2 linked regions of the Homo sapiens genome follow. The protein of the gene in region 1 interacts with the protein of each later gene in a pairwise test. Each region holds a gene or a part of one and is shown on either strand. Other genes may lie near its edges. The genes, in order: DYNLT5 and MEOX2.

Evidence for each region.
Region 2: the proteins of DYNLT5 (region 1) and MEOX2 interact in binary tests that used the Homo sapiens proteins (3 or more experiments, as listed by UniProt).

Annotation. Positions count from the first base shown.
Region 1 is NC_000001.11:66,754,626-66,763,783, reverse strand, and holds part of DYNLT5 (dynein light chain Tctex-type 5), read right to left. Parts: intron 9,129-9,158; 5' UTR 9,126-9,128; coding exon 9,007-9,125; intron 8,141-9,006; exon of another isoform or gene 8,132-8,140; coding exon of another isoform or gene 8,064-8,131; intron 1-8,063.
Region 2 is NC_000007.14:15,675,838-15,684,995, forward strand, and holds part of MEOX2 (homeobox protein MOX-2), read right to left. Parts: intron 6,144-9,158; exon of another isoform or gene 3,077-6,143; intron 1,811-3,076; exon of another isoform or gene 1,626-1,810; intron 324-1,625; exon of another isoform or gene 183-323; intron 1-182. UniProt on the Homo sapiens protein: Mesodermal transcription factor that plays a key role in somitogenesis and somitogenesis and limb muscle differentiation. Required during limb development for normal appendicular muscle formation and for the normal regulation of myogenic genes.

The sequences.
Region 1 (9,158 bases):
AGTCACAAATTCTCTTAAGCCAAAGCCCAATCCAGAGCAAGGCCCTAACTCCCTTCACTTCCATGAAGGCTAAGAAAAGTGAGGAAGCTATGGAAGAAGTTTGAAACTAGCAGAGGTTTGTTCATGAGGCTTGAGGAAAGAAGCCATCTCTGTAACATAAAAGTGCAAGGTGAAGCAGCAAGTGCTGATGTAGAAGCTGCAGCAAGTTACCCAGAAGATCTAAGATCATCGGATAAGCTAAGATCATTGATGAAGGGGCTACAATAAGCAACAGATTTTCCATGTAGATGAAACAGTCTTATTTCAGAAGATGCCACCTAGGGCTTTTATAGCTAGAGAGAGGTCAATGCCTGGCTTCAAAGCTTCAAAGGACAGACTGACTTTCTTGGTAGCAGCTAATGCAGCTTGTGCCTTTAAGTTCAAGCCAATACTCATTTACCATCCTGAAAATCCCAGGGCCCTTGAGAATTATGCTAAATCTACTGTGTTCTATAAGTGAAACAAAAAAGACTAGATGACAGCACATCTGTTTTACGGCATAGTTTCTTGAATATTTTAAGCCCACTGTTGAGACCTACTGCTCTGAAAAAGAGATTCCTTTTAAAATATTACTGCTCATTGACAATGCACCTGGTCACCCAAGAGCTCTGATGGAGATGTACAAGAAGATTAATGTTGCTTTCATGCCTGCTAACACAACATTCATTCTGCAGCCCATGGATCAAGGAGTAATTTCGACCTTCATCTCATTTATTTACTTATTTTTGTATTTTTAATTGATGTATCATAGTGATACATTTTTATGGGGAACATGTGATATTTTGATACATGCATACAAAATGTGTAATGATCAAATCAGGACAACTGGGATATCCATTGCCTCAAACATTTATCTTTTCTTTGTGTTGGGGACATTAAAATTCCTCTAGCTATTTTTTTCCCCTAACCCCCACTAGCTATTTCGAAATATATAATAAATTATTGCTAACTATAATTTCCCTACTGTATTATTGAATACTAGAACTTATTTTATCTAATTGTATTTTTGTATGTATTCACCAACTTCTTTTCACCCCATAAATCTTACGATTTAAGAAATTCATTTTGTAAGGCTATTGCTGTCATAGATGTGGATTCCTCTGATGGATCTGGGCAAAGTAAGTTGAAAAGGATTCACCATTCTAGAAGCCATTGAGAACATTTATGATTCATGGGAGGAGGTCAAAGTGTCAACATTAACAGGAGTTTTGAAGAAGTTGATTCTAGCCCTCAGGGATGACTTTGACGGGTTCAAGTCTTCAGTGGAGGAAGTAACTGCAGATGCAGTGGAAATAGAAAGAGAACTTGATTTACTGTTAAAGGATACAAAATTATAGCTAGATAGGAGAAATAAGTTCTAGTGTTTTTACCACTGTAGGGTGACCATAGATGAAAATAATACATAGATTCAAAGAGCTAGAAAGAGGACATTGAATGTTCCCAACAGGAAGAAATACTAAATGTTTGAGATAATGGATATGCTAATCACCGTGATCTGATTACTATACATTATATTTATGGAAAAATCACTATGTACCCCATGAATATGCATAATTGAAATTTTCAATAAAAAACATAAAATTTAAAATGGTTAAAAAAGAAATGGAACTTGAATATGTGGCTGAATTGCTGCAATCTCATGGTAAACTTAAACAGATGAGGAGTTGCTTCTTACAAATGAGCAAAGAAAGTGGTTTCTTGAGATGGAATCTACTTCTGGTGAAGATGCTGTGAACACTGTTGAAATGACAACAAATAATTTAGAATATTACATACACTTAGTTGATAAAGGAGTGGCACGGTTTGAGATGAATGGACTAATTTTGAAAGAAGTTCTACCATGGTAAAATGCTATCAAACAGTATCACATGCTACAGGGAAATCTTTCATGAAAGGAAGAGTCCATTGATGTGGCAAGCTTTAAAATTTATTTTATTATTTCATTTCATTTTATTTTTATTTTATTTGAGATAGTGTCTCTCTCTGTTGCCCAGGCTGGAGTATAGTGGTATGATCAAAGCTCACTGCAACCTCAGCCTCCCAGGCTTAGGGATCCTCCTGCCTCAGTCTCCCAAGTACCTAGGACTACAGGCAGGTACTACTATGCCTGGCTGATTTGTTTGTAGGGAAGGGGGTGTCTCACTATGTTGTCCAGGCTGGTCTTGAACCCCTGGCTGCCGTGATCCTCTTGCCTTGGCTCCCCAAAGTGTTGGAATTATAGGCGTGAGTCACTTTGCCCAGCCTGTTGTCTTATTTTATGATATTGCCACAGCTATCCCAACCTTCAGCAACCATATCCCTGATTAGTCAGCAGATGTCAACACTGAGGCAAGGCCCTCCACTAGCAAAAAGATGACAACTTGCTGAAGGTTCAGATGATCATTAGCATTTTTAGCAATAAAGGATTTTTATACTAAGGTATGTACATTTTTTCTTTAGATAAAATGCTATTGAATACTTAATAGACTACATACAGAACAGTGTAAACAATTTTTATGTGCACTGGAAAACTAAAACATTCATGTGACTTCCTTTATTGCAAAATACACTTTATTGCAATGGTCTGGAAATAAACCTGCAATATTGCCAAAGTATGCCTGTAGTTTTTAGGTATTTTACTCACATTATTTGCTCCATTTTACTAGTAAGAGAAAGGCTATAATGGAAAGAAAAGATAATTTTCAAAAATGAAAGAGGCAGGAACATGACAAATGACACTGTCTTGTGGAACATATTTTTTTCGAGTAGAAGTGATGCTGAAGGATAAAGAATGAACCATGCAACCTGTGAAAAGCGCAGCTCTGGAGTAATTGAAGGTAATCCAGAAATGGTGATTGACAAAGTACAACAATTTTAAGTATGTGGATAGAAGATCAGAGTTAGTGTCTGAAGCCTGTTGAGCTAATGCTCATCCAAGAGCAAGGGAGGTGATAGTTAAGCACAGCTGATGAACTTTTGTTGCAGCTCTTGGATGAAATGCATTGGTTCAAAGCTGTGTCACGCTGGGCAATCATCAGAGGTGATGCTGGTAGTGCAGGTGCCATGAATACCTCTACAAAGCTGTGGAGATCATCAAGGAGGAGTGTGGCCTATTACAACAGATTTCCAACACAAATGAAACTGTTCTTTTGGGTTTTTTAAAAATAGATGCACAATGGAATGTGTCAGCATGGAGGTAAAGGTATACATTAAGAAAATCTGAACAAGCATTTTTCTATTTGCTGTAAATGCATCTTATGTCTATAAGAGGAAAGCCCCTAGTCAACCTGGACTTAACACATGCATGGACCTGTGAACCTAACTTGTTCGTGAGCAAAAGAAACTTGCTTGCTCAGGAATTGATAAAATGCAACAATTATTCATTCGATGATCACAAAATATGTACTGAGTGACTATTATATGCCAGGCACTATTTTAGGTCTTTGGGATGCAATACTGGAAAAAAAACAAAAACAAAAACAAACTATGGTCTCTGCTCTCATGGAACTGTTACTTTAGTAAGGCAAGACAGAGAATAGACAATAAAATACTAAACAAGCAAATTATATATTATGATAAAAGGTGATACATGCCTCAGGGAAGAGAAAAAATAGAGCAGGTTAAGGGAGTTTGGAAGTGGGTGGAGGAGAAGATGTGATGTGCAATTTCAAATGAAGTGGTCAAGGTAGGCCTTCATGAACAAAGAAAGGAGGTGAGGAAATGAACCACATGGATGGCTGAGGGAAAGGTATACTAGGAAGAGAGAACAGCACATGCAAATGCTTTGAGACAGGAGGCTGCTAGTGTGTTTGAGAAAATGCATAGAGACAAGTAGCAGAGGGAGGAAGAAGAAAAGGAGTGAAAGAAGATAAAGTTGCAAAGGTATCAGGTAGCTAGATCATGTAGGGCTTTGTGAGCCATTATTCTGTAAGCTCTTACTCTGATAAAGCAGACACACCCCTGTATTTTCTAAAAACCATTAACTTTCTTTGCCAAATGGCGATATCAGGTTTTACTCTCACATGCCTTGCCAACATTTGGTATTATTCTCTTTTCTTCTGTTTTGCCATTTGGATGGGTGCAAAATGGTATTTTGTTTTAATTTATATTTTTTCTGCTTGAAAGTGAGTTTTAGCACCTCTTCATATTCTGCTTAGCTATTTGGGCTTTGTTTCTGAAAATTGCTGTCTTCTTTGACTATTTTAAAAATTGTTTTCCTAGCATAAGTTGTTAATGTACAGGGTTTAAAAAAACGTGTATGTATCTTCAGCCAGCCTATTAATTATGTCTATTGTATCCTTTGTTGAGCAGAAGCCCTAGATTTTATTGTGGTTATATTTATCCAAAAATTATTTTGCTCTATGGTGTGAGTTTTCATTTTGGGATCTTCTTTCAGAAATCTTTCCTTACTCCTAGAACATAAAGATATGGGCCTGTGCTTTCTTCTCTTAGCTTTGTTAATAGATTCCCACATTTTGGTCTTCCATCTGGAGTTTACCTATGCAAAGCATATAAGGTAGGAGGCCAGCTTCATTTTCCTCCCTATAATGAGCCAGTTTTCTGCCAACACAATCTATCATTTCCCCATTTACAAACATAAATGGGGATAAAAATATCTTGTCTGTTTAACTTACACAGATATTGTATGTGAAATGGCTTAATAACCTAAAATGACAATACAATATTAGTTGTTATTGTGGTTTCATTTGGAAACATGGCCATTTCAGTTTTCCCAAACTATTTTCTCTTTTTGGGGGAGGCTATATCTCAGGTAGGTCTTGTTGGGGGCTTTAGTTTAACATACATGGTGATACAACTTATCTCCTAACTCTGATCTTCTAATCTCTAGCCTTCTCCTTCAGGTATCAAAATGAAGAAATTGTTCTGGCAGCACCATTTTCAATTGCCCGTAAACAGCTCACAGTAGTATAGATTGAATGATAGAATAAATTCATTACTGTTGAAATGAAGTAATGAATGCAATCATTTCCATTTTGGTCACTTTTACTGGCAAGACCTAGACAATGTGAAAAAAGTTACCAGGCAGCTCTCAGTTTCCCTGAAAAATGAACTTATCTAAATTAGAAACCTGTAGTTATTCACCTTTATATGCCTAATATGTGGCACAGTAATTGGCACATAGAAGCTAATAAATCCTGAATAAATGAAGAAATACATATAGTGTGGCCTAACTGGTATGTTAGATGCCATCAGTGGGTTCACACGGGGAGCTGTGGGATCCATACAGAAAGTTCTGGTAACATGACATCACTGTAATTTTGGTTTGAGGCAAAGGAGAGAATGTTCAGCCCCCAACCTTGTCCCTAATCTACTAGTGGAACTCCTGGCCTCACAGATAACAAGCCTAGACATCATGTCACATGATCCTGTGAAAGTAACTTGACCTCATAGCTTCTGTTTCCATTTTAAGGAAATGAGAGAAGCACATCTGTTCAAACACTGTTCAGTGTCTGCCAAAGTCTGAGCTTCCAATAAGAAAGATGTAATTGTAAAGACCTGCTCTTACTGTGGACGGGAAACAGAAGGTTCTGGTGAATGAACAGAATAGTTTTATTAATGCAAATCACACATGGATTGCCAATTTTCAGGAAATGAAAATACTCAACTAATAAACAAAAGCCCATTTTTGCTGCTTGTTAATTCTGTAGCTTTGGAGCCTCAATCTCTCTAAGCTTCTGCTTCTTCATTTGTCGAATGGGGGAGATAATAACATCTATCTTTATAGAGCAGGAGTTGGCAAACATTTCTGTAAAAGGCCAAATAGCAGATATTTTTGGATTTGCAGGCCCTACGGTTTCTATTGTAACTACTCAACTCTGCTGTTACAGTGCGAAAGTGGCCAGAGACAACGCACAAGTGAATAGGAATGGCTGTGTCCTAATAAACTTTATGCATATAGAGATTTGAATTTCTTGTTATTTTTACATGCTGCAAAAAAAACTGTTCCCCTTTTGATTTTTTTCACCTATGTAAAAATCGTATTTAGCAAAACAGATGCAGATTGGAATAGGCCCTTGGGTCATAGTTTGCCAACTCCTATTATGGAGCTTCTATGATACATAAATAAGGTTCATCGCAAGGGCCCTATAAATGTTAGCTATTATCATCCTTATTATTATAAATTGTTCAGGTAAAAAATAATTTGAAATTACAGATGGAGTATGATGACCACTGTGTAGTGTACTGTCTGGACTCAGACAGCATGGGTCTGATATATGTATGTCCAGGTCTAACAGAAATATGCCAACACACTAACAGTTAGGATAATAAGATCCAGCTTAAGATGTTTCTGTTTTTTCTTTAATAAAACATAAAAATTACATTAAATTGAAAAGATAACTTAAAAACAGACCCAATCTTGAAAACAGTTCACAATAATATTTAATATAAATTTAATCTTCTTTTTGTAATTCAGAAGGCATTTCAGATATTTATTCTGTCTGGGGATCATTGTTAAGCATTAGTTACAACTGTGGAAGACTGTAGACATGGAAACCAAGACTGTAGGGCTAAATCTGTGCTGATCTTATACCACATATAAGAAGCAGCTTTTCAAGGAGGTCTACCTTTACTCTTCATGTCCTCCTTATAAGTGTGGTTACCGCTAAAAAGACAAATAAGTCCATAGTCTGTTGAAAGAGATAGACAAGCAAATCACCAAATATAGTGCATATCGAAGGCAAAAGCAGTAGGAGAAGAAAGGCAGATCATCCAATGCAGTCTGGAGGTAAAGGTGGTCATAGATGAGTAATTAGAGAGCACTTCCCAAAAAGGTGGAGATGGAGCGAAATTCTGATGGAAGAAGTGAAGAAAGCCAGGGGAATAGTGTAAGAAGAGCATTGCAGGCAAGGAGTCGGGGTACCCCATGGGGAAGCAACATGGGGCAATGGCTGGGGGCCAGATAGAGCACTGAGGAATAACTGAGTATAGCTGGAGGGGATGATGCCCGCAAGATGGTGGGGAAGATGGTGCTATGGAAGTAGATAGGGGTCTGTGGACTTTGTATCTCATAGTCAGGATTTGGGACTGTATCCTAATCATTAAGTCAAATTACTTGACCTGTAAACTTTAGTTATTTCATAGTAAAGTGGTAGAAATGATGCCTACCTAGTAGGATTAATGCGGGGGAGATTCAGTGAGATAATGTATTCAGTCCTTAATAAACTTCAGAATGTTTTACATTATTGAAATTTATATTTTCAAAATTGTTTTAAAGTAATTTTCAAATGAAAGTTATATGTTTTTCCATAAAACACTGCAATTTCAAAACAATGCCTGTATTTGATAGTCACTAAGCTTTCAGAATTTTTCTACTAGTTGAAGCCTCATTCATGAAGGAGAATAACTTGTACTGTCTAATTCCAGACAGTGAGGAAGCCAATGGAAAGCAAGTATTAATACAAGTTAGCATGGGGTGGGGGAGCCTCCTAAATAGTCTGCATTGCAAGGGGACTTGGAAGCTGATCATTTGCTATTTAAGAAAAAAAGTACAAATAGAGGTTCCATTCTAAATGTTTTGTTTGGGAGTCCAAAACCAAAATAGTTATCATTTAAATGTAGTTGTCAGTGAAAAATCTATCCTAATGTGTTGATAAATATGATTTTTGTATTCTTATTTTTAATATGTATTTATATTCATCAATAATAGGTTAAAAAGAGTGATCTCTAATTCTTCAAATGTAGCCACACTCTGATTCTATATGACAAATTTGTTTTGAAGGGGAAAAGATAAGTAAAAGTCATGCAAATAGGAATTACAATTTAATCTTTGGAGACAGTATTTAAAAAAATATCATGGGTACGTAATTTATGTCAGACTATTACTTAAATAGTTTCTTGGAAAACGTAAGTTGAATTTAAGCCAACAATCAGTTTTAAATAATTTAAAAAATAACCCTTGCACTTAACTATTGGAAATAGCAGCCAGAAAAGTTTAGAAGCAAAAATTACAAAGATTAATCATTCTCCCACCTTTACTTCTGACATGTGCTGGGATTGCTACTCCTTTATAGTCAGTTTCCCACCTGTAAAAGGCATTGTATGTGTAATCCACAGACTTCCAGGGCTGGAATGTGGAGTTGCAAGTAGGCATTAATACACTCTGAGAATAGAAAGATTTTGGTTTCAGAATTCTAATTATTCCAGTTCTTCTACTCTCTGTTCTGCAGGACACCCTAGCTCCTGCTTCCCAATATATACTCAATATACAACATCCTCCAAAGCTATAGAAACTAAGAACGAAAGTCTATTATTAATTGACTGCTACGTCGATAATTTGTTTTGTTTTCTTCCCAACAGCAGTCAAAAGGAAATGCCATGAAAATATTAAAAATTGATGTATATCTTTAGGAGAGAAGATGCAACATGTAGCAAGAACCAAAAAATCTACTTATTGCCCTTTGACCTACTAATTATTCTTCTGGGAAATGACCAAGCACAGACATATAGTAAAAAAGAAAAAAAATGGAAACAAACTTAAAGTGTCCAATAATTAGAGAATGGTTAAGGAACCCAGAATCATAAATTGACAAAATATTATGCAGTCATTTAAGAGGATATGGAAAAAACTATGAAAATACATGACAAAATTATATACAATAATGTTAAGTACATTGTATATGTATGTATTGATTACAAAAATGCAAAACCTATGTTATAAAATATTGAGGAGAAGAACTCAAAAGACATATAAGCGTGTCTGGTTTACATTGCATGTGGTGTTTCTTTTGAGCAGAGGGTTTTTTGGGATGATTTTTGAAATAGCAAAAATGCTGCTAGGATTAACTTATCACTTAAGCTTTCTCTCTTTCTCTTTCTTTTTAAATATGGCCCCTAAAGATGACCTGCACCTTGTACTTGCCCATTTTATCTCTTTTTATGTCCCCGAGGAAGTGTTTTTTTCTCCTAATAAACATTACGAACCTATTTATTCAATAAATGAATTTACAATTTTAGACAGTTACTCACTCTTTGATGCGCCCATGAATTTCCTTTCGCCAAAATTCATGATTACTTAGAGAAGAAATACTCCCTCTTTTCTTCCATGAATGAGCTGCTCTGCCTTTAGCATTGTCTGACATCATCATAACCTATGGAAGAAGACTTTTGTAAAATAGCAA
Region 2 (9,158 bases), on another chromosome or scaffold:
TTCCTGTACTCTTCTACCTACATCCTCCCAGTTCTTCTATTATCTAACAGAGAAACACTCTCTGTTCCTTTAAACTTCTCTTGTTTTAGGGATCAAATTGCTATGGATCTGAAAATGCTTAAAAAGTTAACTCTGCATTTGTGATTTTAATATAATGCTTGATTCTATTATTTATTCAAAAGGCACTGTAGAAGTCTCGCATATATGATCATTTAAAATTTCGCTGAAGTCATGTCTGAATTCTGCACACTGCCTTATGGATGTGGGAGAGGTGACTAAACTGAGTCAACGCAGTCAACCACCCAGGACTTGCAATTCCAGGGGTTTGTTGTTCTCTTTTATCTCTATCTAAGTGATATTTCTCAATAACGTATTAAATATGCAAATGTGAACAAACAAATAATTAAAATATGTTCTTTGTAAAAAGAAATTATATCACCAAAATAAAATTCTGTTCATGCATTTTGTGTGGGACATACATGTTTTCAGCTTTTAGTAATATTTGCACATTTGCCATTCCTAAGGGTCTGCAACTGGAACTGCTAAAAATAACAGAGCAACAATAAGAAAATTCTCTCTGCAATAAAGTTTCTAACATAGCAGGAAAATGTCATTCCCACCCTCCTAGTTAACAGCTAAAACAGAGACCCAAAATTTCATTGTCATATTTGAATTCCTTTTATTTAAATTCTGTTTCCTCTTGACTAAATGCCCTGCCCCTCTGTACACTCCTTTTAAAAAGTTAAGTTCTGGCCGGGCGCGGTGGCTCACACCTGTAATCCCAGCACTTTGAGAGGCCGAGGTGGGCAGATCACTTGAGGTAGGTAGTTCGAGACCAGCCTGGCCAACATGGTGAAACCGCGTCTCTACTAAAAATATAAAAATTAGCGGGCGCCTGTAGTCCCAGCTACTCAGGAGGCTGAGGCAGGAGAATCACTTGAACCCGGACAGCAGAGGTTGCAGTGAGTCAAGATTGCGCCACTGCACTCCAGCCTGGGCAACAGAACAAAACTCGGTCTCAAAAAAAAAAAAAGAGTCCTCATTTTATTCTTTATTTTGCTCAATATGCACTCTTCCTGAAAACAGCTTTTCAATGGAGAAGTAGCAGGAGACCCAAGAGAAGAGGAAGTTAGGAGAGGTCCAAGTAAAAGAGGCTGTGGAATGGAAATCTTAAGGGTGGGAAAGGCAACTTGAGCCTCTTACATAACTTGGCTAGAATTCACCTTACATTTCAGGGAAATTTCATGCCGTTTACAATTCTAAGGACAATGATTATTTTAAATCTTTAGTAATTACTTAGGCAAGTTACATTTCCTATAGCAGTATTTGTAATAAAATGCAAACAGGTAGCATAAAATAGATTATTTTCAGATGGTGCATATGCATTACATAATTGTACATTCATTGATAGATGATAAAAATAATAACTGACACTTTACTAAGCCAGACATTGTTCTAATTGCTTTGTGTATATTAACTCAATTTCCTTTTCAGAAACGATGGTAGAGAAAAGTTAAATTTGTGGCCAAGAGGTGACAATAGTAAGAGACACAGCGGGGGTTTAGCCCTAACTATTGTGTTCTCCCAGATATGCTTGCCTCATTTCTTCTTCGGTTGACTCTTAGGGTTGCATCCACCTAACCCTCCGGGGTTCTGGCTTCGGATAGTGTTTGATCAATGGAAGCAACAAAAGAAGATTGGAGGACATGAAGACAGGTTACTGGATGATATTCGACATGAGCTGCAATCCTCCATCTGAGGTCCCAACTTTTCCAGAAGGCTTCTGTCCTGTTGCGCTCATTGGATTCTGGTAAGAGGTCCCTGCATTTACCCTCTCAGGTTAGGGGTGCTAATATATTCCAACTGTGGACAGACCCTGGGGGATTCATCATTTCCTGTGGTTTCCCTACATTCTACTCACCATCAAATTGCCATCATCAAACTCTCTTCAATTATCCCTTTGAGTGTGACATCTATTTCCTTGTCTAATATGATAATTAAGAAATAGGATAAATCTTTTATGATTTATCAACTAATGGCTAAATATGCAAAAGTGTTGCCACTTACTTATACTTTCCTAAACATCTGGGTATTCTAGAAAATAAATTATACAGCTCTACTTCCAGGAGCAAAGAATAGTTCTGGAGGAAAAATTATTTATAATTCCCTGAATTTTGAGTGTGGACATTCACAAGACTGTAATCTTAGAAACATGGGTGGCAGCAAGCCTCCAAATAGGGATGCCTAAACTCTGACTTTCCTGTCATTTTAATATGTCTCAATCATTTTTACATCTACATTCTGTCTAGTTTAATGCATCCAGATCTGTTTATACTTCAAATAAGAAAAAGAAATTCCCACGTAAGCATAGCCTATAGGTGAGAAAATTTTAATTGTTAAAGGCACTACACATACTAAGACCTCATTTTATCTTTGAATAATATTAAATAAGACATCACTTGATTCCAACCTATGCAGTGAGTGCTAAAGCATTATTTATATGGTTCTTTAAATGTGAAAGTTATTTGCTAAATTGCTGTTGTTCTACAAAACCAAGCTAGTCCCCATTACGTTTCGGATAACACATATTTATTTTTCTGAATAGTTTCCTGTTTGTGTTACCTACCAACATAAATCAATGATTTGCAAAATTTGCTTTGCATTCATTGTTAATTTGATAAGAGGCATGCCCATTTAATCTTTTCAACTAATAAGAATACACCTCAGTTTAGTTTGCTAGTTTTTTGGGTGGCTAAGAATAACCATCCAAATGTTTACTGTGCAGTCCAGACAGTGGACAAGCTACCTCAACAGACTCTGAATATATTTCACTACTGCATTTGCAAATAACTATCACTTTGCAAAAATAAGTTTTCATTTGGGTGTCATTTCTGGCAAAAATTTAAGGCTATATTTTCAAAGAGTAAAATTCTAGGCCTTTAAAATTCTACTGGCATCTGCCAACCTAAGCTGGACCCTCCTCTAGGTTTTGCGGAGCCTGACAGATGATTTCACCTTAGTCATTTTCTTGCCCACAGTCACGTAAGATAACTGCGAATTTGTTTTTTCCTTGTAGCATTATGGGATTCTCTTGAAGTGTGTGAAGAATAATGAGCTAAATAAAGAGGAAAAACAAAAGAAAACAAAAACTGCAGGGACTTTTATAACTATCATTGATTGCCAGCTTAAGCCTGCTGGACTCTTCACAAAACTATATATGCTTCAAGCTTAATATTTAATTTTGTAATTGGAACATTTATAATCATATTATGCATTTAATAAGGATGCTCTAATTCAGATTTACTATTATCAGGAAATTAAATTTGGAGTTACAGTAATGCATGCATATATATGTGTGGGTGTGAGTGTGCATATACCTATATATGTATATACATATATAAAGTAAACGCCTTCTTTTAACGTGTGTTTTAAGTATAGCTTCCATGTCCTAGTTAATTCAGCACCCTCCCTTTTATCCTTTCCTTGCCATTGTCCTCTCTACTAGACTACAATAAAAACAAAAAACTATGAAAGTAAGCAGCTTATAATCATAATTTTAATCAATGTAGCCTATGCAAGCTTTAAGAAACATACGTCTAACATCTTAGAAAGAAAGCTTATGAACACAAACAGCAGAATACTTAAATACATTTGAAACATTCACATTGAATTGATTCTACAAAATTTTGAAGAGCAACAGCTTTTGAATTTAGAGCTATAATCAGTACCCTAAAGTTTTTACCACTGAGTTACTACCTAGTAAAAATATGTTATATTTGCAATAAAAGTACACATTGTAAGGACATAAGAATTGTCATCAAGGTACACAAACATTTTAGAATTATTAAACATTTAAATAAATGGAAATTTTAAAAATAAAATAACAATATTATCATACAAGTTAATGATCCAGTTTATTAATTTCTAATTCTATTGATAAAACAAGGGATTATTTTTGAAAGGGTTTTTCTATCTTTCATACAAACCCTTTCCAAAAATGTATAGATACAGTACGGATTCTACCTGATCATTCTTGTGCATATGGTGATGTAAGAAACCAAAAAAATGTAAATTATTTTCATAACACTGTGAAAACCAATATTTAAAAATACAGTGCACAATTAGTAGTGAGTAACATATATAAATTTAGAAATATTATATTTCTGTACACAAAGTAACATTATAAATGAAAGCTTCAGGAATAATGAGCTACTTATTATTCCGGAAATTATATATCAAAAATTTCAAATATAGAGGAAAATTAAAAACCCACTCATGACCCATGAAAATTAATAACCCATTCGATCATACACTTACCATGTAACTTTCTGTTAATTTGGTAATAAATAATGTCAAGAGATTTTAAATGAAAATACTTATTCTGAAACATAAAAACAACATCTGAGATGAGCACAAATGGATCAATAGATACATTATTGATTATTTTGTATCATAAAATACTATCTAGTACAACATTCTTTAAAAAATTCAATATTTTTATAATGTAAGTAAAACGGGAAGAACTGTTAGAGAAATGGGCATCAGATTTAGATTAATTCTGCCTCTAACGCAAATTGTAGGCTGAGCCCTATATGTTCTTGACCATTCTAAGTTTTACTACATTAAAACACATAAAATATTCTGCGAGGTTTTCTCCAATGGGATTTTGAATCTCACTGATGACTGTGATTTAGGAGTAATGTAGAGAGTTTTGCAACTAACTTTACTTTACACCGTTACTCCTTTTCTACTTGGGGGTTCAGTTCAACACGCTAGTAAAAGAAATAGTCATGAGAGCATCCTAAGGAAAGTAGGCAAAATGTTAGTGCCTCATTATATTTACAATCTTTACAAAACATGTATGTCAGTAAACCATATTAACATCTAAAGCACATGATATGTAGAAACAAATTGTGACTACAAAATGTGTCTTGTTTCTTAAATATGCTAAATAGGAAATAAATCACATCTACTTCAATTTTTAATCTGTGGACTTTGGCCTTAGTTTGTGTTTTATTTTATTTTTTTGCTTTTGATTTTAACCACTGAAATCATTTACCAATACTATAAGCCAGGAAATACAATGTAACTGGCCAGTTGAGAATTAAGCCTTCTCTTTTTATTATTACAATCAAGGGGGGAAATGCTTATATATCTTCCTGCACAAAATGTTTCATTTATCAAAAAAAAAAGTGAGAAAAATAAAGAAAATTTGGGTGAGATAAATAATCCACAACTATTAATTCAACAGATATTATTTAAGAAATTCCTACCTGTAATTTATTTTCTAATATTTCTGCATCCTTAGTATTTATCGCTCAAAGATATTTGCAGCCCTCATAGCAGTGCTTGGAAAAGAGATTTGCTCTGAAAATTTAGAAATAAATTCCTGAGGTGAATACAGTTCAAAACTAAAATATATTGCTGTATTATATTGGTTTTTCTCATTTGAAATTAAAATCTAAAAAACCTTCATATTAGGTTGTGTGTGTCAAGCTGCCATTATAAAAACACTAAATGAATAAAATTTCGCAAGCAAGGCAGCATTATCAGGCTAAGTACATGTAGTGGGCTTATATATGGTGATGTTTTACATAATTCAGCTATTAATTCATCTATAGATTTACATTTCTTAAGTGCAAAAAAAAATGTAATTATTTCATTACATATGGAATTCACCTCCCAAATTTCTCAGAATCTAAGAGAAAGGATTGACATTTTCTGATATTTCATTTTTGCTTAAAATTAAGTTCTTAGGATGTTTAGATTTTATTATAAATATTACAACTTAAATTCCAGAGTTATAATGAACGGTCTATGTTTTGAAACACAGAGGGAGAATGGGGTAATGACTGAAGTACTGTTTTTTCAGTTTATTAGTAAAGATCAGCTTATAAGATGTCATTGTAAAGGTTTCTATTGATAATTACCATAAACAAAGATTAAAACTTTAAATACTAAGTTCTGGATTTCTAAGCCCGGTGAAAGTTTGTGCAATACCATGCCTTGCATTTATGATTTTTCTTTTAAAATGAACTATAAATGAAGAAATTTACACAGAATTGGAAACTATTCCTACTTTTATTTGCATTCTTCCTTCCATTCATTGCTAATGTTCAACAATAAAGCATTTTAATTCTAAAGGAATTGTTGCTTTTAACTTGAGTGTGATTATTTTAGATCACATTTTAGAGCCCTCATGTAGGTCAATGATACTTAGAATTTTTTATGTCAGATTACCATTTTTAAATGTTCACACCTAAAATTAGTCTACCAGTCCAAGATAAAGAATGGAAGTTTTTTTTTGTACTCCATTTGATTTGTTCAATACTTCACTTTAATCTTCAAGATCCAGTATATTATTTTTTAAATTCTAAAGCAAATGCTGAAAAGCCACAATCCAGTAACACAGAAATGAATAATAACACTAATTTATTCCTTTCAGAAAACACAATGATTGAAATATCTTGGAAATATTACAATATCATACTGAATGAGGTTGATAAGGTATTACTCTGAGTTTAAGTTCCAACTTATTAAATGTAATATTTGCTAGTCATTCTGCATAGTCAAGCATATAGACAGACATAATTTGACAGCAAAGGTTTTATGACATAGTAGCTATAAATAAAATATTTGTAATTTTACAAGAATCTAATATGATTCAAAACCTAGTAAAGTCTACCTCCCCAAATCGCTCTTTTCTTTTTTGATGTAATTTCTATTTTTTATAAAATATGTATCATAAATTTGAATAGAAAATATCTAGATATGTACACTGTATAACCATGCACAAAAGCTAAAGTTCGATCAATGAATTAATTTTAGTTATTTTAACTAAAACTGGGCAGTTTATTCCTACTACTAGATTGCTCAAAGAGCAACCAAATGTAATTGAAGCCAAGCAATTCACACTATTTATAGACATTTTTCAGAATCACCTGCTTTGTAGTGATTTTTTTCAGCAGTTGTAAAGTTTTGATTTTTAAGAGTCCCTTTGAAGACGTGGCAGATGTTGGCTTTGCTAATAATGCTGGAAAGCGTAGCAGGTTCAAAGTTACAAAAATGTTTAACACATATAAAATATAATGGTGTGTTTTTCTATTAAATTTGGTTATTTTCAATTGTCAATAAACTTACATAAAGGAAGCCTAAAGTCCATAAATATTTGCTTCCAAAACATGAAGCTGCTAGAGTTTGCATATGTGTGTGTCCATGTGCATTTGTGGAGGGAAAGTGCATAAAATATATGCTAGAGAAGCTTACGTATTATAGTTTTAAATCGTTACTATGAATAAAATTGTAAGGTTTATAAATATTTAAGCTGTTTTTCAATACTTTCTGGTGCTTAAAATTCTATTAGAATTTAACACGGTAATTAGAATTAGCACATACACATACAGTCTAAGTATTAGATGCAGGGATACAGAATTTTGGTCCTGACTTTACCCTGGATTTATGTACTGAATTTTCTCTCAACCATAAATGCAAAGTAATTATAAACTACCTAACAAAATACAAATGATCTCACTATATAGGATGACATTTTTATCTAATACAATTTTAAATTTCAGGAGTTCCGAAATCACTTCAATTTTATATTTTAGAAATATTGAAATACTAAAATGTGCTATAAGCAATGAGAGATATACGTATTAATAGCATACCAGGATCATAATCATTTTCAATATTGTTTTAGTTTGTGCTAGATCAAGATGTCTATGAAATAAAATATCTTTGAAGATAATTTATGGAACACCTAATGCAATTGTTACACGAGAAAGATATCTTTAATTTAAATCTATCTCAATATCTGACAAATATACCTTCAGCTGAAATTGGCAAATAAAATTTTATTTTCAATAAGTGTACATAGATTTAAACAGAAACTATTGTGATTTTCCTTTTAGTCAATATTTCTTCAACATATCAAAGGAAAGAAAAGCTCATTCTAAATCCCCAGTATTTTTATCCTTGGTGATGACTAATTGTACTTTCCACTGAAGTTTTAATCTGTTAATAATTTATGTAGCTGACACAAACACTTATATTTGCTTGTTTTTCCAGTACCCTCATTATCAGCTTCAAAATGTAGAAATGAATTTAATTTTGTTAAATGGTTATTTCCCACTAAGTTGGGGGGGAGAGATAAATTAGTTTTGTTAAATTATTCCATTTTTTAAAAAAATTATTAAAATAAATTAAGGGAATCAGTTATTGAATTCCGTTTTCTCAGTTTTCCCCAAACAAAATAACATGTGCTTGTATGAAAATTGTTTGCCCTGAGAAACTTAAGGGCAATGGCTCAGTTCAGGAAGCATGAAGAACAATCTATCATGTAGGTTTCTCATTGCAAGAAATAAAATGAACCGTAAGAGCTTATGGGAATTGCAAGAGTACGCTCATCAACCCGAACTGGGATCTGCTTCCAAAGTTACACTGATATCAAATGTTCAGTTTATGAAATTGTCACTGCATTCTAAAATCGACTGTTTTTCTAATAAAAATTGAAACCTTTTTGCTATGATTAACCTTTCAACTCACTATCTAAAGAGAGTTTCACTTATAGTTAGGAAAATACATTAAATATCAGTGACACTACTGGTAATTTTCTTATAAAAACTAATTTGTGATGGAACATTAAAAGTTCACCCCCTGACCTTGGAAAATAAAAGTTAGCTTTTGAGACCGTGAGAGAAGAATCCATCCTATAGTAACGCTGAAGAACAATTGATATTGCTGTGAATGGTGAAGGAATATTAAATATGCGGCCAATCATTTTCATTTATGTGGCATCTTACCTAAAGCTTTACACACGATCAACATTTTTCCAATCCTTCAAACCAACATATGGGATTACCTTCTAGGACTATTATTAACCCAATTCCACAGAGGAAGAAAAATATGCAAATATTATATTAAACAAATGACACCTTCCAAAAGTATTTAATCCAGGTTGCACTATACCCACGAAAGAAAACTCACAAGTCTCTTAATTTTAAAGTATCTTTTAACAATTTTATAAAAATACAGGTAGGTAAGAGCTTTGAAAACTTGTCTGGAAACTTTGAGTTTCTCTGGATTGCTACAATTTATTCGGCACGTTGTGCCTTCAAGCACCAGAGGTCAGGAAGGTTCCCCTTTTGCATGGCTGCTCA